Regions from separate parts of the Homo sapiens genome. Here region 2 is linked to region 1. Evidence: fine-mapped expression QTL. A gene starts in region 1. The other region holds a variant in brackets. All regions are shown on one strand. Distances are between the middles of the regions.

Region 1 (16,769 bases):
TCAGACCTTAGAATTTCATTCCCCAATCCCACCATTCTGACTCAGGGTGAGCAAATCTTTTCAAAGTTACTTAGAGGGTGTCTAGATTCTGCATCTTACTCCTTAGGACTGGAAGGAAATGGAATATGAGAAATAAAAGAAAAACAGAAAAAAATCATCTCATCTCCCTGACAGAAAAGTCGTTTAGCCCTCTTTGTAAAATAAATGTAAAGAGAAATAGGAAATAGCACAACTAGATAATAAGGTGATTCAACTGAACAGGGTTAGGATTTCAGAAGTTTCATTTTTTGTGAATATGTGATCTATTGAGGAGAAAACAGATCCTAAAACAGTAGAAGGCCAAAAGGACCTGATGTGTATCTTCTTTAAAAAAAATCACAACTCCAGATAAAACATGAGGGAAAATGACATTTTATTCTGCAGTATTCCCTTCTCTGCACAGTGAGCACAGTACATTTATCTCATATGATGGTAAAAGTCTTTGGCAGCTGCAACCTGTCTTTTAAGCCATTCAATAAGTGAAACTTGAACATGGATTGCTCTTTTTTTCTGGGATTTGTGTTAATAATGAATCCAGTGCCATTTAATTTGTAATTTAACAGGGTACTGTTACCTTTGAATGCTTTTACTTCTCTTTTCCCAGAAGGTTAAAATGGCCCAGAAAGAGATTGTCATGGTTAAGATAAAGGGACAAAACAGTCATTTCTGACACGCTGTGGAAGCAATCATCATTTTTATGAGGGAACCACCAGGCTGAAATCTGCATCAAGCTCTACCAGGAAAAATGCAAGAAAGGACCCTAAATATTCATTCCGTTCACAGTCATCATTTCAATGAATTTAACTTTCCATTCAGTTGGGGTCATATATTTCAATCCTAGGGTAAAGAACTATGACCTTGGCTGGAATCATCAGTCCCAGTTACTCAATGGGGCACTTCTGAAACATCGCAGACTCATTTTGACTCTCCACGGGTGTGGCTAAAATTGGTCCTGTCCAGCCCTAAAGCTTATATGATCTGATGTCCCTCCGAAACTCACTATGAGAAAACTCATGCAAAATTTGCCATAGAGATCAAGGTTTACAGGACCCTTGGAGCTAATCTCTCTCTGCCCTCCTCCTCTGTTAGCTGTTACAAGCCTTCAAAAGTTAACAGGGTGATGGAGCCTCTCTCTATACAATCATCTCATCTCACTATCGTTGACTGAAACTCGCTGATGTAATGAAGTTACATAATCACCGATTATGCACGACTTCCATCCATCTTCCTACATATCCACATATCTTCTCCCCTCCCCTTTGGATCAATCTACCAGGTGAGATTTATAACATATGTAAATGCTCCACTCTCTCATCACAGGCACTGAATATGGAACTTTAGCATTGCAGTACAGTGCACTGAACCACGTCATCAATATTGATTTCTTTATCCCATTTCCCAGGCAGAATATGCTTAAACATCCTTAGTGTTCTAGTCTCTAACTTTTTACCGAAAGGGTAAAATAGATGTAGCAGACAGGACACATCTTCAACTTAAGGTTAGGGGAAGTATGTAATTAATTGCCTGCATTTCCCAAGCTGGCTGCATTGCAATAAAAGGACGGTCTCTGCTTTCAGACCTTCGACTCCCCTGCACGTGGGTCTCAGCTTCAGCTATTTAGGATATTGGGTAAATAATTATATTATTGGGCAATTGAACTTGAGAAAGAAAGCACTGTGGTGATATTTAAGATAATGTTGCCTTATTCTTCTCTATGTTAGCCATCATTTTTAGCTTTTTCTTTTCTTTTCCTTTTTTCACTCTGAGTGATAATCCAGTAGATAAAAAAGTAGCCCAGGGCGCTTAATAATCTCCAGTAACCACAACCTAGAGAACAATTAACGATGATTATCACCTTAAAGTTTAAGAACTTGACAAGTGGGATGTCCCTGGTCCCATTGCGGCTGTGAAATGCAGCAGAATGCTGCACTGAGTTGAAAACATATTTCTTTTAATGCATAGAGAGTAGCTCGTTTCATTTTAAATGGGGCTCTTCACTAAGTGTTTCTTTTACTGCTGCTACCCCTTCCAGAACGCAGGGGCCACAAATATTACATTCAAACAAAGAGTGTCTACCCAGAATTAATTCAAGACACTCTTCCATATCAAAATAATTGGGGGAGAGAGTGATACTTTGATTTTCAATTGCACTCAGAATACGGGCACACATACATATACACACACACGCACACACACATACACACACACACACACACACACACACACACACACACACACATATCAACACACCCAACTGCAGTTATTCCATTCAGTGCCAATAACGGCCACATCACAGCCATCAATGCGATGCAGCAATCATTCAAGTCACCCATTCCCATTACAAATGCCCAAGTTTGCTCATGCCACTGATGGGTTTGCATATATAAAATGACCTTACCCACAACAGTCTTCCAAATTATTCTCCTCTGGATATTAGTCGGTAAGGTAATTGCTGGTCATCACAATGCGTATTCAGAAAAATCCACGTTTTACTCCTGTGTTCTTTTTCTTGTTTTTGCTAGCAATTAATATTGTGAACAAGATTCCCATTCACAAATGCCAAGTTCACCATAAAAGCAGATAATTCCATACAGATCTTCCCTACAAGACTGTCTCCAGTTAGTTCTCAAAGTGCCCGATTGTTTGCTGAAGATACAATCCAGGTGCAGAGCAGGAAAAAAAAAAACAGACTAGGAGAAAAATGAAGAGGCAGATAGAAAAGGAGAGACTGAGAGAGGAGAGAGCAGAAAAAGAGAGGGGAAAATAAGAATAATTCTTAAAAAATAAGGAAGGAAAAAAGCCGATAAGTGAGAAGTCTGCGAGCTCTATGACAAGAATTGGAGTGTTGCTTGCAAATCTTCTGAGTACATGCAGCCTTTCAAATCCTCCTGGTCCCCAAGTAAAATTTCCAGATCCGGGATGCAGCCATAAGAAAGAATCCTATGTATATTTCACAAGTATCCCGCAATAACAGATCCGACGGGGTTTTCCTTGTACAGTACTGCTATGTGAAAGCACACAACCCCTGCTGTTTGGGAAGGTGTCTCCTGGGTCCTAGCTCTCCTCAGCAGCCCCCAAAAATGATTTTTCAAAAAAGAGTCGGGGGGGGGGGTGGGAAAAGCAGCTTTGCGTTTGCCTTGAATGATGCTAATCCTGAGCGAAAACCACAAGCAAAACACGAATAGCACGAGATCTTGATTAATAGCCACAATCCACTCAAAATATCCCAGGGAAGAAGGAGCGAAAACAAGAAAGAGAAACTGCAACGCATAAATGATTCCAGTGTTTCTACAAGATCGGTTCATTTGATTGAATGCATTCTCTGGTTTGCTGCAAGTCATAAAGAGGATAGTATTACTGCCACCCAATGGATATTTTAGTACTAGCCAATCCACAGACAGCCACCGCTTTGCGAGTTTGAGTTCTCAGAAGACCGAAGTGGAAGGAAGGTAGCCTGGGAATCTTTTGGAAAGGACCCTGGGAGGCTTCAAATAACGGAAATCTGTTCTTCCAGGCAAAAGCAGACTGGCAAATTTGGATGCTTATACAGTCTTGCCTTAGCCACCTTAGAATTATGGTTCCATTTCTCTAGGAAGCAGAAAGATACAGAGAGTGATGCCTAAGCCGACACACTCTTGATAACCTCCTTTTCATCTCTTCTCTTTGAAGCAGATTTATTATTGCGCGCGACCCTCCCACCCCCATCACTGTCTCCCCAACGCCCCCATTCTCCGTATCACTTTAAGATGGATTACAAGAGAGAAGGGGTGCGGGGGCTGCTCCAAACAAACCTCAGGTGCTAAGATGATAATTGTTTCTAAAGGGCAGTTTTGCAAAAGTGCCTCTGTCTGTATTGATATGCAAACTGTGAGTCCTTCAAGCAGTAACCCTCCTCACAGCCGCGCTTTCAGTTTGGGGGAGGAGCAAAATCTTCCCTAAGTGAGTGGGGCTTGGGAGAAGGGTGCCTGTGGAAGGCTCTCTGGGAGTGCGGGGTGGGGGTGGGGAGTGGGAGGAGGAGCGGAGGGGAGGGTATTGAAGAGGATCCTCCTCCCATCCACCGCGTAATTGAGTTCCCTGCAAAAGAGTTCGCTGCTGGTTTCTGAGATGAATTTGTGATGAAGAAAGAGGGTCAAAGTAGGTACGGGTAAATACATTAGGTTATTTGCTCAATTTAAGGTCCTTGACCATTTACATTGGGATAGTATAACACTCACATGTGATTCCGTGATTCTCAAACTTTGATGTACACACCGTCACCTGGGTGTCTTGTTAAAATGCAGATTCGGATTCGGTACATCTGGAGTGAGGCCTGAGACCCTGCGTTTCTAATAAGCTCGCCCGTGGCCCATAATAATGTTGCTGGGCTGTGGACCACATTTGGAGTAGCAAGACCCTTAAAAAATGTTAATGTTTACACTGCAGCAACAGTGTCAGTTTCCGGCAGCTGAGTAGGCTGGATGATTAAAAGGCAGCGAGCCGCTTTTCTAGTTACTTCTCTCCCTCTCCCCACCCTGCAACCTTTCCCATTCAACACCGGCAGCCCATGTACTTAAAAACCTTAACCCATTTTGTAATGTATCCCACAAGCTTTTGTAATGGCAGGCTTAACCGGATAAACCAAAAATAGAATAAATAGGTAAAGTAGCCTTGGCCCTTCAGAACTGTTTTAATTTGGGGAGTAAAACACGCATCAAGATAAAGAAAACACTTTAAAAATTAGGTAAAATGTGAGCTAAACGAATACAAACTAAGCGCGCAGGTGAGAATAACAGCAGGCAGGGAGACTAGACAGGGAGGTAAAACTGTATTTCGAAAAAAGGAGCAGTACACTGAAATTTCCAACCTAAGCAGAGGGAAAATGTGGTTAAAGTCGGTAGGCAAGTCTTACAAGGTTTCTTTGAAGCTAACTCACCCATGTTCACATCTTCTGTGCCAGTGTTTTTCTTCCCTCTGCTTCTTCCCCACATGCTATAATTCAGCCTAAACTGAAGATTAGAAGTGAAGAGGAAATATATTCCCCTCCTTTCAACGTGAGTGATCTAGATTTTCTATACCTTCCATCACAGTCCTCTAGTTGACCCAGTTGAATGTGAATAGACCTCAAGCAGACCTGGAGGGGGGCACAAGTAACAAGTGTAAATGTAATTGCTTCAAGCAAAATTTAAAAGTAAACGTCTTGACCGTAGGCTCCAATCCTAGATTTGAGTCTAAATTCTACTCCTAAGTAGCCATAATTACCCAAGGGAATCACTTTAATTTCTCTTGGCCTCAGTTTCCTTGTCTATAAAATGACAGGTTGAAATTAACCAGTTGCCAACGTGCTGTCCAGCTCCATATGGTACAAAAATCACGTCCTCTCTTTGAAATGTTCTGCAAGTCAGTTTGTTACTGTACACAGAGAAGGAGTTATGATTATTACCTTGACATGGGCTGCAGAGAGCATCTAGAAGCTTTGAAAAGCATCTCGAGGACACAGGTGAACATTTGACCACTTCAATCCTATTTCAAGAGATGATTTAAAGTGCTTTCATTTCAAATGAAATGATCAGATCCAGGAAAGGAAGTGTTTGTTTGAATCTGAGGTGAAGCATTGTCTATTCCTGGATCCTACAGAGCCAACTGTGGGCCTCGCTGTTTGTTGCCATGGGATCCTCTTTGTGCGAACTATCTTGAACTGTGTGGGAACATTTTCCTCTTGCCTCCCTTCAGTTCTCTAACTCTTCTGAAGATATGTGTCAGAACAAAATGTAGCTGCATTATTGCCAATTAAGACTAACGGCAGCTGCAAGGTGCATCTAATTAAGAATTTTAATTACTTCACTGAATTCTCATTTGCAGATGTTTAGAGCATTCAACAATGTATTGTGATTTTTATTTTAAAATCTGAATAAAGCTGACCTCCCTCCAAAGGAGGGTGGAAAACTACACAACCCAATGATGGATATTTTTAAAAAAGAGTCTTTGACATGGAAAGTATATACCTTGATATATCATTTGAGAATATGCGACATTATATTGAGGATGAGGAAATAGAGTGCATATCCATAAATATGCCTTTTTTACTAAAGGAAAAGGCAAGCAAATCACAAAATACTGGAAACAAATTGATAATTTACTATTCAAGTAGAATCCTTGCATGCTACATAGTTCTCAAATATTCTGTTCTTTTTCTTTCCAGTAATATGATGGTTAACTGTAGGTTTGGCACTGCAGTATGGGGATTGTAGGCTATAATGCAAAGCATTATGGGGTTTGTAGTAAAAACTGGCTGCAGATCAATTCCATGCTTCTAGCTTTTCTCAGTTGAAGAAACTGCTGTTTTATTTTCTAGTAATAAAGAAGAATGTCAAGATACTGTACATTAGATTCATTTTAATGAAACAAGGTTGGTATTAATGGGAGTATGAAATTAAAGGTTAGCTACAGAAATATTCTGACTTGGGAGATGGAGAATATAACCCCACTTTACAAACCCCAAAATAAACTGAGTGAGCTATTTCCTAATATTACTATCCTATAGTTAAGGTTTCAAAAATCACTTTCATTGTTTTAGTAGTAAAACGTGAGAAAATATCAAATTTGGTATTTACGAAAGAGAATGATCAACACCTGAAATGAACTCAAGTTCTTATTGATTCTGTCTTTAACTATTGGTAGTTGAAATTTAATTCTTCACATTTCACGTCATTGAAGGCTATAATAATAGTTTGCTTTAGCGCAGCTTTTTGTGGATGGAGGCTTCTTTAAAGAGAGAAAGAGAGCCTACTCAGCTGCCAGCCACTCAGTGAAGTGAACAAGAGTTTTATTTAATCTACCTTTTTAGATACTTTTTATATAAAATTACTCTGAATATTCAGAGTAGCTTCTCTTTTTAATAAAATCCTTAAGGCTAGAATATCCTTAAGGTTAGGAAATATGTCTGAATTGGGTTATTTTATTCAGTTTAAATTTAATTATGGAAATGTATAAATTAAGAAGTTATAATTCAGTTCATTTTTGTGTGCAGATGATTCTATGTAGATAAATACATAATTTACAGAGGTTTTGATTTAATTCTGTTGGCAGTTTATTTCAAAGTTCACTAAACATTTTCCATATGATATGAATTCAAAGTCTAGCTCCCCACAATGCTCTATGAAATCAGCCCCCCTTTTGTTTTGAAGGCTAAAATACGTCTCTTCAAAGCCTCTTCCATCTGTGAAAGTTTCGATTATCATGCTAAGTTACTTAGAAGGTATTTTATACCTGAGGTTGCTTCTTTTTCTCTTTCTCTCCTTAAAGAAGCCTCCATCCACAAAAAGCTGCGCTAAAGCAAACTATTATTATAGCCTTGAATAAATGCAAAATCAAGTACTCTTCATTTTCAGGCCTTTTGCCAGCAATATTCATTTGAACCCACCACCACATATTCTCAAATGAGGTACAGACAAAGACTTGAGCATTTCAGCAAAATTCCACCATAAAGTTCAGGAATAATAAAGAATGCTATGAAAAAGCAAACAGCAACAGGAAAGAAAAATGCCATGCCTGCTTTTCTTTCAGATTTCTAAGTTTTGAATCATAAAAATATATAAATATATATCTTCTTGAATGCAGTTTACATTATTGTTCATACTGTGAATATTTCTTTTATGGTCATAAAAATAAAAGCAATGCCCCAAATGAAACACTGTGTACATAAGCGATGCAAATGCATCCCCGGTGGAAAGCCGGCTGGCTGCTGGTGGGAGGGTATATTTATACAGTGCCTTTCATTTGGAAGGTTCCCAAAATGATTTGCAAACTGTATATAGAGGAATGGCTCACCATGGAAATTCACCCACTTCCAGGAGAGAATGCAGAAGTCATTCCATGCTGACAGCCAGTTTAAATAAAACCGCAGAACAATATTTCAGGTGGGTGAAATATTAAAATTGTAATTGATTCAGGAAATGTGCCCTGGAAACCCACTATGTGCCAGGCATGGTTCAAAGTACTGAGGGTATCATTATGGATATATCTAGTTCAGTTTCCTGCTCTCCTAAAGCTTACATTTTATTAAAATCTAACCAGAACTTGGGAGTTACAAAGACCTATTTCCTGGTGAATTTCTGATCTCTGCATAGAGTTCTGCTGAAATAGACCACTTGCACTTTTTATATGTATTTATATCAGACTTCATGATATCCAGGACACAGAACCTGTGGCATATCTTCTACTTCAAATTGAACGCACAAAAAAATAGCTTCAGATATTGTGGTTGAAGCAGGTAAAATAATAATATTTCCTGCATTGAATGCTTTGGGGGTGGTAGGGCAGAATTCATACTCTTCTGGGTTTGGGAAAATAAATGAAACGGTATTGATGTAAATATATGGAAGATCACTTCCTCTGAAATGATTCAGGGCATTTCACGGTAATTACAGCGTATAAAATAGGTTTGATGAAGGAAGAGAACAGTGTGAGCTAATGTTTCCAAGTATAAAATATGGAATCAAATTTCAGTATCACTCAAATTACCTAGATTAATAATATTTTTCAGAGGAAAATAGATTGGGAAAAGAAGGTAAGGCAGGGGCTGTGAAAGTTCAGCCCAGACTAGCTCTGTGTACTCACAGCCATCACCCTCTTCTCTGTAGTTTGCTTCTAAAGGCCAGCACCCATACCCTCTTTAACAATTGCTCTTGGGCTACTAGCACTGTGTGTCATGCCTGTGATGAGAACAGGAAGTACCTGGAATTTGAAACCCTCTTCCACCTTACCCAAGAACTGACTGATGTGGAAGTATGAAACCCTGGCTCTTTTTACTATAGTTTGAAAAAACTCTGTGGTGCAATTTATACTCCAAGCTCTCCCTCCTGTGGAGAGCTGAGGCTGGGACTGTGCTTATAGTCACACTCTTGCTTGGTTTCTGGGAATGAAAGATAGAGGGTAACTAGAAATAATCATAGAGGTCCCACTTCTGGCTTTCAAATATTCAGCCTATGTGACTGGAGATAGTAATATTTGTTCACCTATTCATTTGTCTATCATTTATTAATTACATGCTATGTGACAGACAGTGCAGGGTGTTGAGGCTCTAGGGATGTGTAAGGCACAGTCCTTGTCTTTAAGGAGCTCATGTCTAGCAATAGAGTGACCCACAAACAGCACATGTAATACATGCTGTGGTAAGTACTCTAGGAGAGATCTGAATTCAGCCTAAAAGAATCAGGGAAGACTGAACAGAGAAGGTGTTATTTCGGTGACCTTGAGGTTTATCGATAAAGCAAGATAAAAATCACAAAAGAGTGAAGACCAGTAATAAAGAGCAACATCTAAGTAGGCCAATTTTCTTGTACCTAGAAGGAAATAACATTGGTTCTGGTAGTAGAACTCAAAAGTGTTTAAAATCATAGAATCAGTTTTTGAAGGGGGCTCTAGAGACAACCTTGAATAATCTCTTTATTTTAGACAGAGGAAATTGAGTCTCACCCAGGAAAGTGACATAGTTATTCAAGCTTACATAGCTAGGAAGTTTTAGGAGTTCTTTTCTGGCATGACTCAGCCATATCGCCTGTCAGCCTTTTATTTAAAAAGATAAGTTGAGGACATAATGGAGATATCTGATATAATATGATCTGGTTTGAATCCTATCACCATATGGCCTTGAGAAAATTCCTTACCTTTTCTGAGTCTGAATGTCCTCCTGTAAAAAAATGAAGTTAATGGGATTACCTCCTCCTGGGGATGTTGTAGTATGTATACTCCATAGAGTACCTAGAACATAGTATGTGTTTGAGAGAGGAGTGCTTTGTTTCATTTTAGCTTTTAAAATTTGTTTTCATTTCTTTTCTTTTCTGATCAGAGAATATTATAGTGGTGTAAGGAGTCATCGCCATTTTATTTTTGTTTTGTGTTTTGTTTTTATTTTTGTTATACTGGCTACAGAGTTGAAGGGAACTAGACATTCAGGATAGCTTCTTCTTTTCTTTTTTTTTTTAATAAGCTGGTAGTGTTTGGGGTTAGAATAACCTTGTCTGACTACAACTCATGGGTATTACTGACAGTTCATCTGAGGACCAGTCTAACTTTGTTCAGTACAAGCCAAGTAGGTGAATCTGCTTTGTCTAACCAGCTAGTTATAATAATAATGAACAAAATACTGAAACATATATTTACCAATTGAAGAAGTCTATTTTACTCACATTACAAAGGAGGATAGCCAAATGGCAAATGAATGCATCAAAAGGTAAGTGACTTAATTAGACATAAGGGTGATATAAATTTAAAGCATAGTGCAACATCATGACACATTCCCCAAAATGTTTAAAATGAAATCATGGGCAACGGAAAATGTGGGTGAAGAGTTGAAGCAACTGGAACTCACGTCTACTCATGGTGAAAGATAAAATTGTTTCAACAACCTTGGAAGACTTTTCAGCAGTGCCTATTAAATCTAAACATATGCATAACCTATGATGTCAGCAATCCCATTCTTAGGTATATACTCAACACAAATTCAGACATATGTTCACCAAAAACACGTATTAGAAAGTTCAGAGCAGTTTTATTCCAAAAAAGTTGCAAACTGGAAACTACCCAAATGCTCATCAGGAGTAAAATGGATGAATAAACTGTGGTATATCTAGACTGTTGGCTGCCATAAAGGAATAAGAACTAACAAGCTACAGTTATCCACAACAATATTATTGAATCTCACAAACAAAATGTTGAGCAAAATAAACCAGACACAGAAGAGTACATACTGTAAGACTGCATTTATAGAAAGGACAAAACTAACCAAATCTACACTTCAACACATAAGGATAGGAGTTATCCTTGGTGGAAGTAATGACTAGAAGGAAGCATAAAAAGAGTTTCAGGGATGCTATAATGTTCTGGTTTTTTCTGATCCTGGTGTTCGTTAATTGGGTATATTCATACTGTGAAAATTCACTGACCTGTATGCTTATAATGTATGCACTTGTGCATATATTTCATATTTTAATAACAAAGTTTTACCAAAAAGAAGTTTATTTTAGGCCGAGCGCGGTGGCTTATGTCTGTAATCCCAGCACTTTGGGAGGCCAAGGTGGGCGGATCACGAGGTCAGGAGTTCGAGACTAGCTTGGCCAACATAGTGAAACCCTGTCTCTACTAAAAATACAAAAATTAGCCAGGTGTGGTCGCACGCACCTGTAGTCCCAGCTACTCAGGAGACTGAGGCAGGAGAATCGCTTGAACCCGGGAGGTGGAGGTTGCAGTGAGCCGAGATGGCGCCATTGCACTCCAGCCTGGGTGACAGAGCAATTTCTGTCTCCAAAAAAAAAACAGAAGTTTGTTTTAATATCAGAAGAAAAACATCTAACTCCTACATTAATTATAGATTATTAAAAATAATAAAAACTAAAGTGTAGGCAGATGTTTGTGAAAGTTAAATATTGTATCATATTTGAACACAAAGGTCTTCCTGTGAAATGGATATGAAAAGGCAGGATTTGTTTATTTTAAAAAATGTTTTCAGGAAATAAATGGGGTTTTCTTTTGGAATTGTAATTAATTTAGTATAATTTAACATAGAAAAGAAACTGGATAATGAAGATAATCATGTCTTTGACTTTTTAGTGTCAATCAAAGCTTTGTTAAATTCTTTTGTGAAATGATAATAGCTAGCATTTATTCAGTACTTATTATGTGCCAGGCACCACTGGAGGCATCTTATACCTGCTAATTCATTTAATCTTCAAAATAAATCAGTACTGTTGTTATGGCCAATTTACAGATGAGGAAATCAAGGCTTGTTCAATGTCTCACAGTGGCAAACTTGGAAATTGTACCTTTTCTTAATTTCTACCCTTATCTGCCACGCTTAGCATTTGATTATTTTCTCTATGTTACATTTAGCTAAAATCATCAACTTTGTCTTTGGCTTGTATGTTGCCTTTTTGTCTTGATATTGCTAGTACATCAAGCTGTAAACTAAAGAGTCAGTAGCAATTCAGCAAAATTTCTAGTGCACTATTTTCTCCAGCAGTCTCTTAGTTTCGATTTGGGGTATCTCTTTGCTGTTTATCTTTTTCCTATAGGAGCTCTAAGTGAATTACTATGTTTCTGTTGAATGAGAGAAATGTGATGAAATTATGGCTTTCAGGGCAAAAACATTAATATTTCAACTTTTAAAACACCTAAGAATAGTATGATGAAGGATGTGTTAATGTTATGTAAATACCAGTATGGCTTTCTGAACTAATTTTTACACTGAGGAAAACAACTCTTTTAGTAAATCATACAGGAGACCAGAGAGATATCATGGATGATGTTTAATAACTAGATATCTATATTCAATTTGTGTGTGTTTATCAGATATTAGAGGAATATTATACTAGAATGTGATTATTGTATAGCAGATACTATGTACAAAAGGGAGATTATAGCATAGCAGAATAGAGGCAGTAACTTAAACCTTGAATATTGAATATCATTATGGTAAAAGTGTCTTGTGACAGAGACAATACTATGTGTTCACCAAACTTTTAAAATTTCCTTCTTTTTTTTTTTTTTTTTTTTTGAGACAGAGTCTCGCTCTGTCGCCAGGCTGGAGTGCAGTGGTGGGATCTCAGCTCACTGCAACCTCCGCCTCCCTGGTTCAAGTGATTCTCCTGCCTCAGCCTCCCCAGTAGCTGGGACTACAGGTGCGTGCCACCACGCCCAGCTAATTTTTTATTTTTAGTAGAGACTCGGTTTCACCATGTTGGCCAGGATACTCTCGATCTCTTGACCTCGTGATCTGCCCACCTTGGCCTCCCAAAGTTCTGGGATTACAGGCATGAGCCACCATGCCCGAGCATAACAATTTCCTTCTTAAGCACTCAAAACACTATGTTGCCGGGTCCTTTTACATCTAGGTGGGTCCACAGTGGATTGTGGACAGATGAGTTACATACGTCTTCTGGACCTGATTCCTAAAATCTCCAGAGAGATCTCCCCTCTGTCTTTATTCTCATGCTTATTTTCTTCTTATGTATGGCTTGAAGGAAAGGGCTTCAAGATGATGGAGTCATGTGATAGATGAACCCTAATTCCTAAGTCATTGCTAAAAGGAGAGTTATGTAGCCAGTAGCATCAGACTTGGGCTTTGTGTGACTAGGAAACAAACATTCATTATACTAAGTGACTGAGATTTCAGGTTCATTTGTTGGTACAACAGAGCTTAAATGACCCTGATTTATAACCTCTCACCTCTAACCTCTCAAAGGCAAGAAGAAAACATTTTTCTTCTATTTTTTCCTCTATTGATTTATTATTTTGTATTCAGGTGTACAAAATTGTACCGATCACTATTCTTGATTAATAGTCTTTTTCATTGGTCTATGTGCAGCCTAGTTTTATTTATGTATTTATTTAGTTTTCAAGAGGTTATGAATGCTTGAGAAAGCGCCACCCAAAACAAAAGCAAGTATCTTAATAATGATCTATATCAAACAAATGGAATGGTACCCCTGCCAACCTATACACCTGCCTTCCTTCATCTAGAGAAACCATTATCCTGAATCTCACGTGCATTTTTTGTTTGACTTCTTTTTCATATAACTTTGTTGCATCTATGATATCCCTAAAGAATATAAATATTTTACATTTCAATTTTTTTAACTTCATAAAATAGTATCGGCTCCAATTCTGGATAAAATGCAGTAAGTACACTTTATTCTTTCTTTTCCTGTTGAACACAACTTTAAAACCTGCACAGAATGTATGAAGCAACTATTTGAAAACTCTGAAAAGTAAATAGTAGTAGGTAGATCAGGACAGAACACCAGAATTTGAAGTGAATTTTGTGAATTTGTACTAAGTTGACCTTTTTATTTTCCCTTTGACATCTCCCAATCTAAAGTCAAAACAAGTGGTAAGTTGGAAATGAGCTCTGTGGCACAGAAAGAGAAAGCTCCAGGAGAGACCATCTTCCCCTGGCTCAAGGACTGGGAAAGGAAACTCCTAATGCTAAGAGAGAGTGGAGAACTCTCTCCCACCTTTCTCTTTATTTCTCCATTCTGTTGTGCCTCAGTTTCCAGGCAATCTTGTGGTGTTGGTGGAGATGGCAGCTGCAGTTACTGGAACCAGTAAGAATGAAAACTCTGAGGGAGGAGTCTTCTCTGTTCTATACAGCTTGCAGTTTCAAGAGGGTAGGACAAACTCTCTTTGTTTTCCTGGTTGATTGTCGTATTTTGTTTTGTTTTTTTTATTGCCCGTCTTCCTCCACTTGAGCCAGAACATGAATCTCATCACAGCAGTCCACAACAGAGCCTGCCAGTATCGGGGTAATTAGAGCCCCAAGTTTCTGACTAGGGAACCAAAAAGGGTGAAGGCAGAGAATTGAAACATACCAGACAGATTTCAGGGAGGAAGAACTGAGGAAATTGACCCCACAAATTTGTTTATGAACGCCAAGGCTCACCCTCAGGTGGCACATATCAGTATTTTCTTTGTCTGCAATTATATCCTGCATACTAATCGTGATACATTTTGTTGACTTTCCAATTATACTTTTGTCTCGTATTTTTATTTCTGCTATGCTTTTGATATTTGTTGACTTCTACTTTCTTTGATTTATTCTGTCAATCATACTCTATCATCTTAAGATGAATATTTAAATCATTAATTTTAAGAATTTCTTCTTTTTTAATATGAGGCTTGTGGCTGTAAATCTTCCTTAAAGCATTTTTGCCATATCTCACAGTTCCTAATATCTAGTGTTTCTTTATAATTCTGTGTTTGTCATTGTTAAATTTCACTATGATGTTTTTCTTTAACCTAAGAGTTACATAGTGTTGTGTATGTGTGTGTATGTGTGTGTGTTTTAAATTTCCATATGATCAGGGATATTTTTATTTTTTAAATTATCTTCTAGCATAATTTTATTATGGTTAGATATTGTAAGATCTCAAATTTTTGAGGATTTAATAGATTATATATGATCAACTTTTCTAAAACGTCTCACATGTGCATGAGACAATTGTATATTTCCTAATGCATGCATAATCATACCCCCCTCCCCCAATTAACAATCAAGCTTAATTGTGTTGCTTGTTAAATGTGTTGTTTTAATTTTTTTTTTCTTTTAAGACATAGTCTTAAAATGTCATCCCGGCTGGAGTGCAGTGGCGCGATCTCAGCTCACTGCAACCTCCGCCTCCCGGGTTCAAGTGATTCTTCTGCTTCAGCCTCCCAAGTAGCTGGGACTACAGGTGCATGCCACCACACCTGGCTAATTTTTGTATTTTTAGTATAGACAGGGTTTCACCATATTGGCCAGGCTGATTTTGAACTCTGCCCGCCTTGGCCTCCCAAAATGCTGGGATTACAGGCATAAGCCACTGTGCCTGGCCTGTTTTACTTATTTTTCTTCTGTGTCTTTACTGATTTGTTTATTGTGTAACCTGTAAATAACAGTGATGTGTTGAAATTTCCCACTATGATAGCACATTTATCATTATAGAAATAACAATTTTTTGCTGCATATATTTTGAGGCTATTTTACTGGTGTCTACTTGTTTAAAATTGCTATACTTCCTTGATAAATTCAATCTTTTTAAGTCATGGCTCTCTCCATCCCAAATATTTTTTGTCTTAAAGTGTATTTAATTTAATATAACATAGTTATCAATATTATTTTGATTATTGTATTCCTGATAGGTCTTGTTTTTACTATACTTTCACTTCAAACTTTCTTTTTTTTTTTTTTTTGAGACGGAGTCTGGCTCTGTTACCCAGGCTGGAGTGTAGTGGTGTGATCTCAGCTCACTGCAACCTCCGCCTCCCAGGTTCAAGGGAGTCTCCTGCCTCTGCCTCCCAAGCAGCTGGGATTACAGGCTCGTGCCACTGCACTGGGTTAATTTGGTATTTTTAGTAGAGACAGGGTTTTGCCATGTTGGCCAGGCTAGTCTCGAACTCCTGACCTCACATGATCCACCTGCCTTGGCCTCCCAAAGTGCTGGGATTACAGGCGTGAACCACCACGCCCAGCCTTACTTCAAACTTTTGCATAACCAAATTCTTAAAGTGTTTCTCACAGAAACCGTTTACATCTGGATTTGAGCTTTTATTTATACATCTGTATCTTTAAACCATTAGATTTCCTTTATTCATATTTATTGTAATTATTGATATCTTTGTTATTGTTACTACCATCTTAATTTCTTATTTCAATGTGTTCCTCTTTTTCTACATTTCTTTTTACTCCTGTCTTACTTATCTTTTAATTGAAGCTGTGTCTTACCCTGAATAAAGCAAGGACTCTCTCATCCCTTGTCTCCTCTTCCTTCCAGCACCTATCATGTTGATCTAAACAATACCCTGTTTTTTTCTTAAAATGTGGTCCAAGGAGTAGCAACATCAGCAACAACTGGGAACTTATTGATTAGAATTGCAGAACTTTGGACCCCATTTCAGATCTACTGAATCAGAATTCTCATGTAAACAAGCACTCCAGATGTTCATATGTACAATAAACTTTGAGAATCACTAAACTAGACTTTAAATTCTTGGTTGTTATTGATGTATTTTCTCTTCTCTTTTTTTGTCTTTATTATTTTTAAACCACAGTAACCAATGCTGAAGTATTTATTTGATCACCTTTACTTCATTCATCTCTTGGAACATCTCCAGATTTGTCTTTCTTTTTCTTTTAAATACTTATCCAAAAGCATTTTTAAATGTATCTTTGTGGAGCAAACTTTTAAAATATTTTATGCCTGAGAATATTTTTATCATGT
Region 2 (8,000 bases), 260 kb before region 1:
CCTCCTGGAAAAGCAGACACAAAGATAAGATTAGACAAACCCAAGAGTTATCAGAGGCAGGGTCAGAGAGGAACACCTATGAAAGAAAACAGGAGGAAGCCAGAGGAGGCCAAGAGACCGATCTCACCTCGATGTGGGTCTAACCTCTTTGAAGAATAGGGGGAAGAGAGGGAGGAAGGAAAACAAGCTTTACACTGTAGTGCAGTGTAAAGTTCATGGGGATTCTTGAGCTCACATTGCCATCAGTGGAGTTCCCACATCCCTCAGCAATGGGCCCGTTTTAGTACCCCTGCTGCTGCACTCTGTCACTGACTAGAAGCAGCTCCTAAGAAGAGTGGGGCCTCAGCACCAAAGCTGTGATGGATCCAGAAAGCAGCATCTCGAGCCCAGTACTCAGTTGTGTTTCTTGCGGTAGGAGATGTGAGAGGGCATTTTCGTGAGCATCACAATGCATTCAGCCAGTCACTATGCTTTTATAGGCATATTTTAATAAAATTTTAACAATATTTTAATAAAAATCTGAGCTCCAACTAGGTAAACAAACATGAGTGATTTTACTTCCAATTTGCAGAAATCAAATACTTATGGATAAATAAAAATTACTGTAGAAAATTCAGCTAAAATTAGCAAAGCTAAAATTAACAAAAGATTTCAATTGACCACAAAAACAGAAAATCACCCTAATTAATCAGTTCCATCAAATGTATTCCTCACTTGCAGACAGTAACTACCTTTAGTACACATAAGCACACGGTAGTTTTAAGACCTTAGTCCAATAAGGGAGTACTGGCATTAGTTGAATAAAGCCAGTAGAGCAAATCAGCAACACTGCTCAGATAATCAAAATGAAGATTCATAAGACAGGGACAAAGATAAACAGAAATGTGTCTAATACGCAGTATATAAGATGTGTTACTCACTATGCTATGGTTTTTAAAAAGGGGATAAAGATGAGCAAGAAAGACCACCTATGTACTAATGTAAGTATAAGACGAGAGTTCCATTTTGCTTTGATACTGCAGATTGTCAAAAGGGCTGGCTTAGGTTGGTTACATCTATGCACCCTGGTAAGACACAATCCAAGTTGTCTAATTAGATGTTCTTAGAAAAACTAATTTGTGAAGTCAGAGTCTTATATCGTTGTTTAATATGCTTTTTAAATGTCACTTTAAGTAGTAAAATATTTTTAAAAATCAGAATTAAAAAATAAGCTCAAGTGGGTACATGGCACTTTTAAAGTATCTTTCATATGATTTTCTAGGAAGAAGAACATCAGACCCACAGAAGTCCTTAGTAAAGATGTCATGTTATCCCAATAGGAATGTCTGACATCTTGATAATCTTGCAGCTTCTCGTGTAATCCAGAAGGAGGTAAAACTACAGTGAAGTGCATGTTCTCAGACTTGAATGGGTACACAGAGATGAAAATATAATTAATTCAATTGTACTTCTTTGAGATACTTCCAACACATTCAGCCAACAGAACAATGGTGATTTTTTCCCCTTTTCAGAAGTAGAGTCTTTTTGAAACATTCTGCTTTGAATACGGGGCTTTTTTTTTTTTTAATTGCCTTGTACTCCTTCTCCCTAGGATAGTAAACTCCAAGCTCTACATAGGTAAGTATAAAGGATTTTATAAAATGCAAAATGATAAAGTTTACAGAGAAAATTGCTAGGTTTTAGACAATAATACTATCAGCTTAGGGCTGAAAGAATCAGAGGTCTAAAGGTTTACAGACTCAGAATGAAAGCACATATAACACCTAGCTCTGAAAATTAGGTCATGTTAACAGAACTATTTGACTGCGCCGTTTGCATCTGAAAGTCCAATATTTGAGGAAATGTGACTATTTTAATAGCAGGCTTGTGTCAGCAGTTATAAAAATGAGGCCTGAAGCACTGAAAATAGTCTCCTTTCCTTGTTGTCTTCGTCCTTCTAATTATTCCAGATTGTGTTGGAATATCTGTCTTCTTCCTACACCTTACTTCTCACCCAGCAGTGGTCCCTAATTCAGAGCTAATCTGTAAAGGTCAAACCAAAGTTGGAAGCATCCCAAGAACCCATGATTATGCACCAATATTGCCGAGTAGCTAAAAGGTAGACAGCTTTTGGCTAGTGACAGATTTCTTTTTAATAAACAAGTTCACTGAGGGAAAAAATAAAATGATAAATCTGTTAAATATAGAAAACCCAAATTAAAAACAAAGGAGTTGTTGATTGCTTTCTCTCCTTTAAAATACACAGTTGAGAAAAAAAAAACCCTACAAGTACAGAATTCCCTAATATTTAGAATGTATAAAAAATAATTCATTCTGTCAATCAATACTTACTAAGCAGGGGACTTAATTTTTATTTCATTTTATTTATTTATTTATTTTACTTTAAGTTCTGGGATACATGTGCAGAACGTGCAGGTTTGTTACATAGGTATACATGTGCCATGGTGGCTTGCTGCATCTACCAACCTGTCATCTAGGTTTTAAGCCCTGCATGCATTAGGTATTTGTCCTAATGCTCTCCCTCCCCTTTCCCCCCATCCCCGACAGGTCCCAGTGTGTGATGTTCCCCTCCCTGTGTCCATGTGTTCTCATTGTTCAACTCCCATTTATGAGTGAGAACATGCAGTGTTTGGTTTTCTGTTTATGTGTTAGTTTGCTGAGAATGATGGTTTCCAGCTTCATCCAAGTCCCTGCAAAGGACGTGAACTCGTTCTTTTTATGGCTGCATAGTATTCTATGGTGTATATAAAGCAGGGCCTTTTGTAGGCATGCAGGATATAATAGTGAACAAAACAGACAAAACTCTCTCCTCATGGAGCTGACATCTGAAGTGAAGGGAGACAGACAATAAGAAATTATTTAAATATATATAAAAAGTCATTGGTGAAAAGAGTTAAGAAGTAGGTTGCAAGTTTAATCAGGTGGCTAGAGAAGGACTCACTAAGCAGAGGTGTTTGAGAAAAGACCTGAAGGAGCTGACTGTGACAGGCAGGGGAGCGGGAATGACTCATGAGATAGCTGTGTGGAAAGCATCCCAGGCAAAAGGAACAGCAAGTGCAAGGCACTGACGTGGGAGGGGGTGTGTCTGATGTAACAGAGGAGCCTTGTGCCCTGGAGTCGAGCAAACAAGGGGAAAACACTAATGGATATACTAAGAGGCATTGGGGAGCCAGATGTTTATGCATGAGAACCTTGTGAGCAACTGTGGGGACTTGGGATTTTATTCTGAGAGAGATAAAAGACCATT[A/G]TAAGTAGAGGCTGAATAGAGAAGAATATCATACAATTGGTAAGTGAAGGAATCACGCTGGCTGCCATATTCAGAATAAAACAGTTAAAGGGAGCAAGGGAGAAAGCAGAGAAAACAGTAACAAGACTATTGAAATAAAACAGGTGAGAGACAAGGGGCACTGGGCTAAGATGCAGCAGGTGTGGTGAGAATTAGTCAAATTTTGAGTCCATTCAACTCTTCTTTTCAAGGAAGAGTTGAAAGAATTTGCTGATAGACTGGAGTGCATGAAAAAGAAGAGCTAAAAGGAATGAAGGTTATGGCATGATCATCTGAAAGGATAAAGTTACTACTGAGGAAGAATGTGAAGGGTCAGGTGTGGGAGAAAAAGTAAGGAATTTGTTTGGGGTCGCTAAGTGTGACATACCCATTTAGACAAAAAATAAAGATGTCAACTAAGCAGATTGATACATGTGTCTGGAGTTCAGGGGAGAGGTCCAGGTTGGTGATGAAAATTTGGGAATTGCCAGCATAAAAATGGTATTTAAAGCCATGATACTGGAAGAGATCTCCAAGGCAGTAAGTGCACAAAGCAAAGATGTCCAAGGACTGAGCCCTGGGGCCTTCTAATGTTTGGTAGCATACAGCTTTTCTGCATCTCATGACAAGAAGCATTCCATAGATGGTCTTAAAAGGATTCTGGATGAGATGATTGCTTAAAACGAAATATTGCAGAGTAAGTTTATACATTAAGTGGTGATTTTAACCAGATGCTATCTAACATTCCTTCCAATGCTATATGATTTTTGTGACTAAAAATGAAATCTTCAACAACAATGAGATATCACTACACACCTATTAGAATAGCCAAAATTCAGAACACTGACAACAAAATGCTGGCAAGAATACGGAGCAACAGGAACTTTTATTCACTGTAGTTTGGAATGCAAAATAGTACAGCCACACTAAAAGACAGTTTGGCAGTTTCTTACAAAACTGAACATGCTCTTACCATATGACTCAGTAGTCACACTCCTCGGAATTTACCCAAAGGAGTTGGAACTGTATTTTGACATAAAAACCCGCCCGTGAATATTTATAGCACCTTTATTCATAATTGCAAAAACTCAGATGCAACCAATATGTCTTTCAGTAGGTGAACACATAAATAAACCTGGGTACATCCCGACAATAGAATATTATTGAGTGCTAAAAATAAATCAGCTATCAAGTCATAAAAAGTCATGGAGGAAACTTAAATGCATATCACTAAGTTACAGAAGCCAATGTGAAAAGGTTACATACTGAGTGATTCCAACTATATGACATTCTGGAAAAGGCACAACTGTGGAGACAGGAAAATATCAGTATTTGCTAGGGGCTAGGCAGATGGAAAGATGAATAGGAGAACTAAAGAGGATTTTTAGGTCAGGGAAAATACATATGATACTATAATGGTGGATGCATTTGTCCCAAAGCATAGAATGTATAACACCAAGAGTGAATTCTAGTGAAAACTATGGACTTTAGGTGATAATGATGTGTCAACACAATAAGCTCATCCATTGTAACAAAGGCACCACTTTGGTGGGGGATGTTGATAATGAGAGAGGCTATGCATATGTAGGGGTAGAGGGTGTAAAATAAATCCCTGTACCTTCTTCTCAACTTTGTTGGGAACCTGAAACTGCTCTAAAAATAATCTTTAAGAAAATAAAATCTTTTTAACTTCATAAAATTCTAATATATGAATATGTGTTATAAGTATACAATAGAATCCCCTGATTTATTTATACTTTATATGAGGATTGACCTTGTATTGTTCAGATGAAATGCTACAGTCAAAAATGTGTTACTTGTCTGTGAAAGTCAAGCACTCAGTTGATGTTTCAACAAGCTGCCATTAGATTCAAATCAATGATTTAAACATAAATGTATATTATTTAGACTAAAAATACCCTGGGCCCTATTGGTTAAATCCTGAGTTGACCAGATATAGAGGTACAGAATAGTTTCCTTTAATCTGACATAGCTAGATTATTTTAAATCATATAAGGAGAGATTTTATATCATTGATTATTTTGATAAATTTTTTTAATACGTACAATTAAAGTAATGTGTGTTGAATATATAAAAAATGAGAATTTCAGAAAAATCTAACAATATTTAATACCATACATACATATCAATTTCAATATGGCTTGTTTATCTTGGACTATATATATTTTGTTTTTGTTTGCATAATCCCTAAGCTATGTAAACCCTGGGGAAAAATGTCTAATAAACAAGACCCTACATCATTCCTCCTGCATGGGCTATGATTCTTTACTTTTGTAATGCACTTATAATAACATGACAAATCGTATCTTTTACTTCCACCTCCACTCTGGTTGTCTTTGGAATTAAATTCACCAGAGAAGCCTTCTGAAAAGGTGTGATATTTCACCTGTCATGTATACATCAATAGAACATCTTTTCTTGGCACTTGCTTTCAAAATCACTCAAGATATAGGTAATCTTAAAACAAGAATCAAAGCTTTTTCAAGAACTGTGACACAAAAGACTCAATACTGAATGCTATCAAACTGTACACAATGCCAGTAAGACAATATCAATAAGAACTGCATTTCTCTTTTCTAAAGGAAACACCATATCTCAATCAAGTAACATGTTCTTTCCTCATTGTAGCTAGTTTAAGTCACATTTTCAACCATAAAAATATAGAGACAAATACTTTGTTTCTATTAAAGAGATTCTTGTCTTTTATGTCAAGAGACATAAAGAGTCACAGAAAACTTCAGCGAAGTCCATTAATGTCATATCTTCCAGAGGACTTATTACATCTTCTTAGAGGAATAACAATACAGAGGTATTAAATAACCATATTTTAAAGTAAGACATGAGTACCCACAACAGCTAACCCAGACCTATGAGGAAACCTAGCCAAGATTAGGGGATTTCTTGTTCTACAATGGCCTCGCTCATGTCTGATGATTGGCCACCTGTCGAATGGGGTGAGTAAAACGTTAAGTCTTTCATCATCTGTTGATAGCAGGGTTCCAAGAGAATAAATGGAAGCATTCAAGGTCTCCTAAGGTCTAAACCTAGAAATGGCATGATGTCAATCTTACCACATTGTATTTGTCAAGGCAAATTACCAAGGTCACATGGCATTCAAAAGGTGGGAACGTAAACCCCCACCAAATTTGAATTTCAAATTCAAATTTGGTGGGGGTTTACGTTCCGTTCCCACCTTTTTTGGGAACTTTGGTGGGAATTTGGTGGGAAATTTGAATTTCCGACCATATGAATTTCCAAGGTCATATGCCATTCAAAAAGGGGGAGCTTAAACTCCACCTCTTGGTGGGAGAAAATGAAAAGATATCACAAATGGATGTGGGTGGGGGCATTTACTAAGGCTGGAGAGAGGGGAAGTGTTAGGAGATGAGCTCAAAGAGCTAGGCAGCAGGGAGCTCAATAGCGAAAGCAGGGAGATCAGTTAAGAGGCTATTGAAACAATAAGGCAGAGAATGCAGACTATTGATTTTCAAGTAGCAAACTCCCAATACACACTGCCTGACAAAAATTTCATCTTAATGAGCAAGCACCTGAAACTCAAATAAGGCATGCCTTACAAACGCACTGCTCTGAATATCCTGTGTGTTCATGTTCTAATCCCCTTGTTCTTGCCACCAAGCAAAGTTAAGGTTTTTGTTTCTTCACAAATCAAGATATAAAAAATAAACTACATAAAATTTGAATCTGTAGCAACTCTTACAGTCAATTTTCAATTTGTATAACATGCTATTTAGACTTCAAAGATGCATACAAATTTGAAATATTGTTTTTACAAAATCCAAAGATTCATTTTATCCAAAATATCCACAATAAATGATGCACTAAAGCATCAATCCAGAGACAAGGGAATTAACAATTGAAATAATAATTGAGACATAGTAAATTGTTTATAATTATGGAAGCCATACCCTGGACATCTTGCACATATAGCAGCAACATGCTTTAATGGATGGTACCTGGGGCATTTTCTTTGTAGATTCACCTATCTTTTACGTTCAGCTCATTAATTATATGAGAAAATGATCCCGACTAGCTAGGGATTATCTTACACATTTTTTCTTTATGGTATAGAAATTAAGCCAAGCCCTTTAAGACAATTTTTATAAGACAGAAAATAAATAAATTTGTAGATTCACCTATCTTTTACGTTCAGCTCATTAATTATATAAGAAAATGATCCCGATAGCGAGGGATTATCTTACACATTTTTTCTTTATGGTATAGAAATTAAGCCAAGCCCTTTAAGATAATTTTTATAAGACAGAAATAAATAAATAGATGCTGCATAACTAATCCCCAGACTCTTAATATTTAACAGAAAAAAAGGGAAATTTTATTTCAACTTTATCCATAAATATAAGACACGAAATTGCTTGAGCTAAAAAAAAAAATGGGTAAATAAAATGGTCTATAACTTGCTTGCATTTCTAGTATCCATGTCTTTATCATTTCAACGTTTTCTCCCTGTGATTCAGAATTGATCTTGAGAGGTCATCATGAACACACCAGAATCTTGAAACAGAGCCATACTTATTCTGTATGAGGCAAAAAGCAGGAAAACAAATCCCATTTTAAAAGTTTAATGGAACAATATTTTATAACTTGCTTTGGAAACTTATCCCAGTAATCTTCATTACCACCAAATAAATAGACTTACTCATTTTCTATCAATTCATACTGCCAAGCTTTTATTAAG

Alleles and levels. Alleles are on the strand shown, and positions count from the first base shown. SD is a standard deviation of normalised expression in the study named.
In carriers of allele G in region 2, the expression in tibial nerve of the gene that starts at base 3,039 in region 1 tends to be higher than with A alone (small effect, 0.31 SD a copy in GTEx).

What was found. PIP is the estimated chance that this variant, and not a neighbour inherited with it, causes the effect. A credible set is the group of variants that fine-mapping cannot tell apart.
Region 2: its variant is the best candidate, but not a certain one, in a credible set for the expression of IL1RAPL1 in tibial nerve (GTEx, PIP 0.74).

Annotation. Positions count from the first base shown.
Region 1 is chrX:28,573,716-28,590,484 of GRCh38, reverse strand. It overlaps IL1RAPL1 (interleukin 1 receptor accessory protein like 1), which reads right to left and starts at 3,039. Exons shown (of 11, transcript NM_014271.4): 1 at 2,438-3,039.
Region 2 is chrX:28,842,705-28,850,704 of GRCh38, reverse strand. All of the region lies in intron 2 of IL1RAPL1 (interleukin 1 receptor accessory protein like 1), which reads right to left. Among named protein-coding and RNA genes, the nearest start is that of IL1RAPL1, 260 kb to the right of the region's middle. RefSeq lists an enhancer at 6,442-6,994. The variant A/G (reference allele first, on the strand shown) is at 3,248.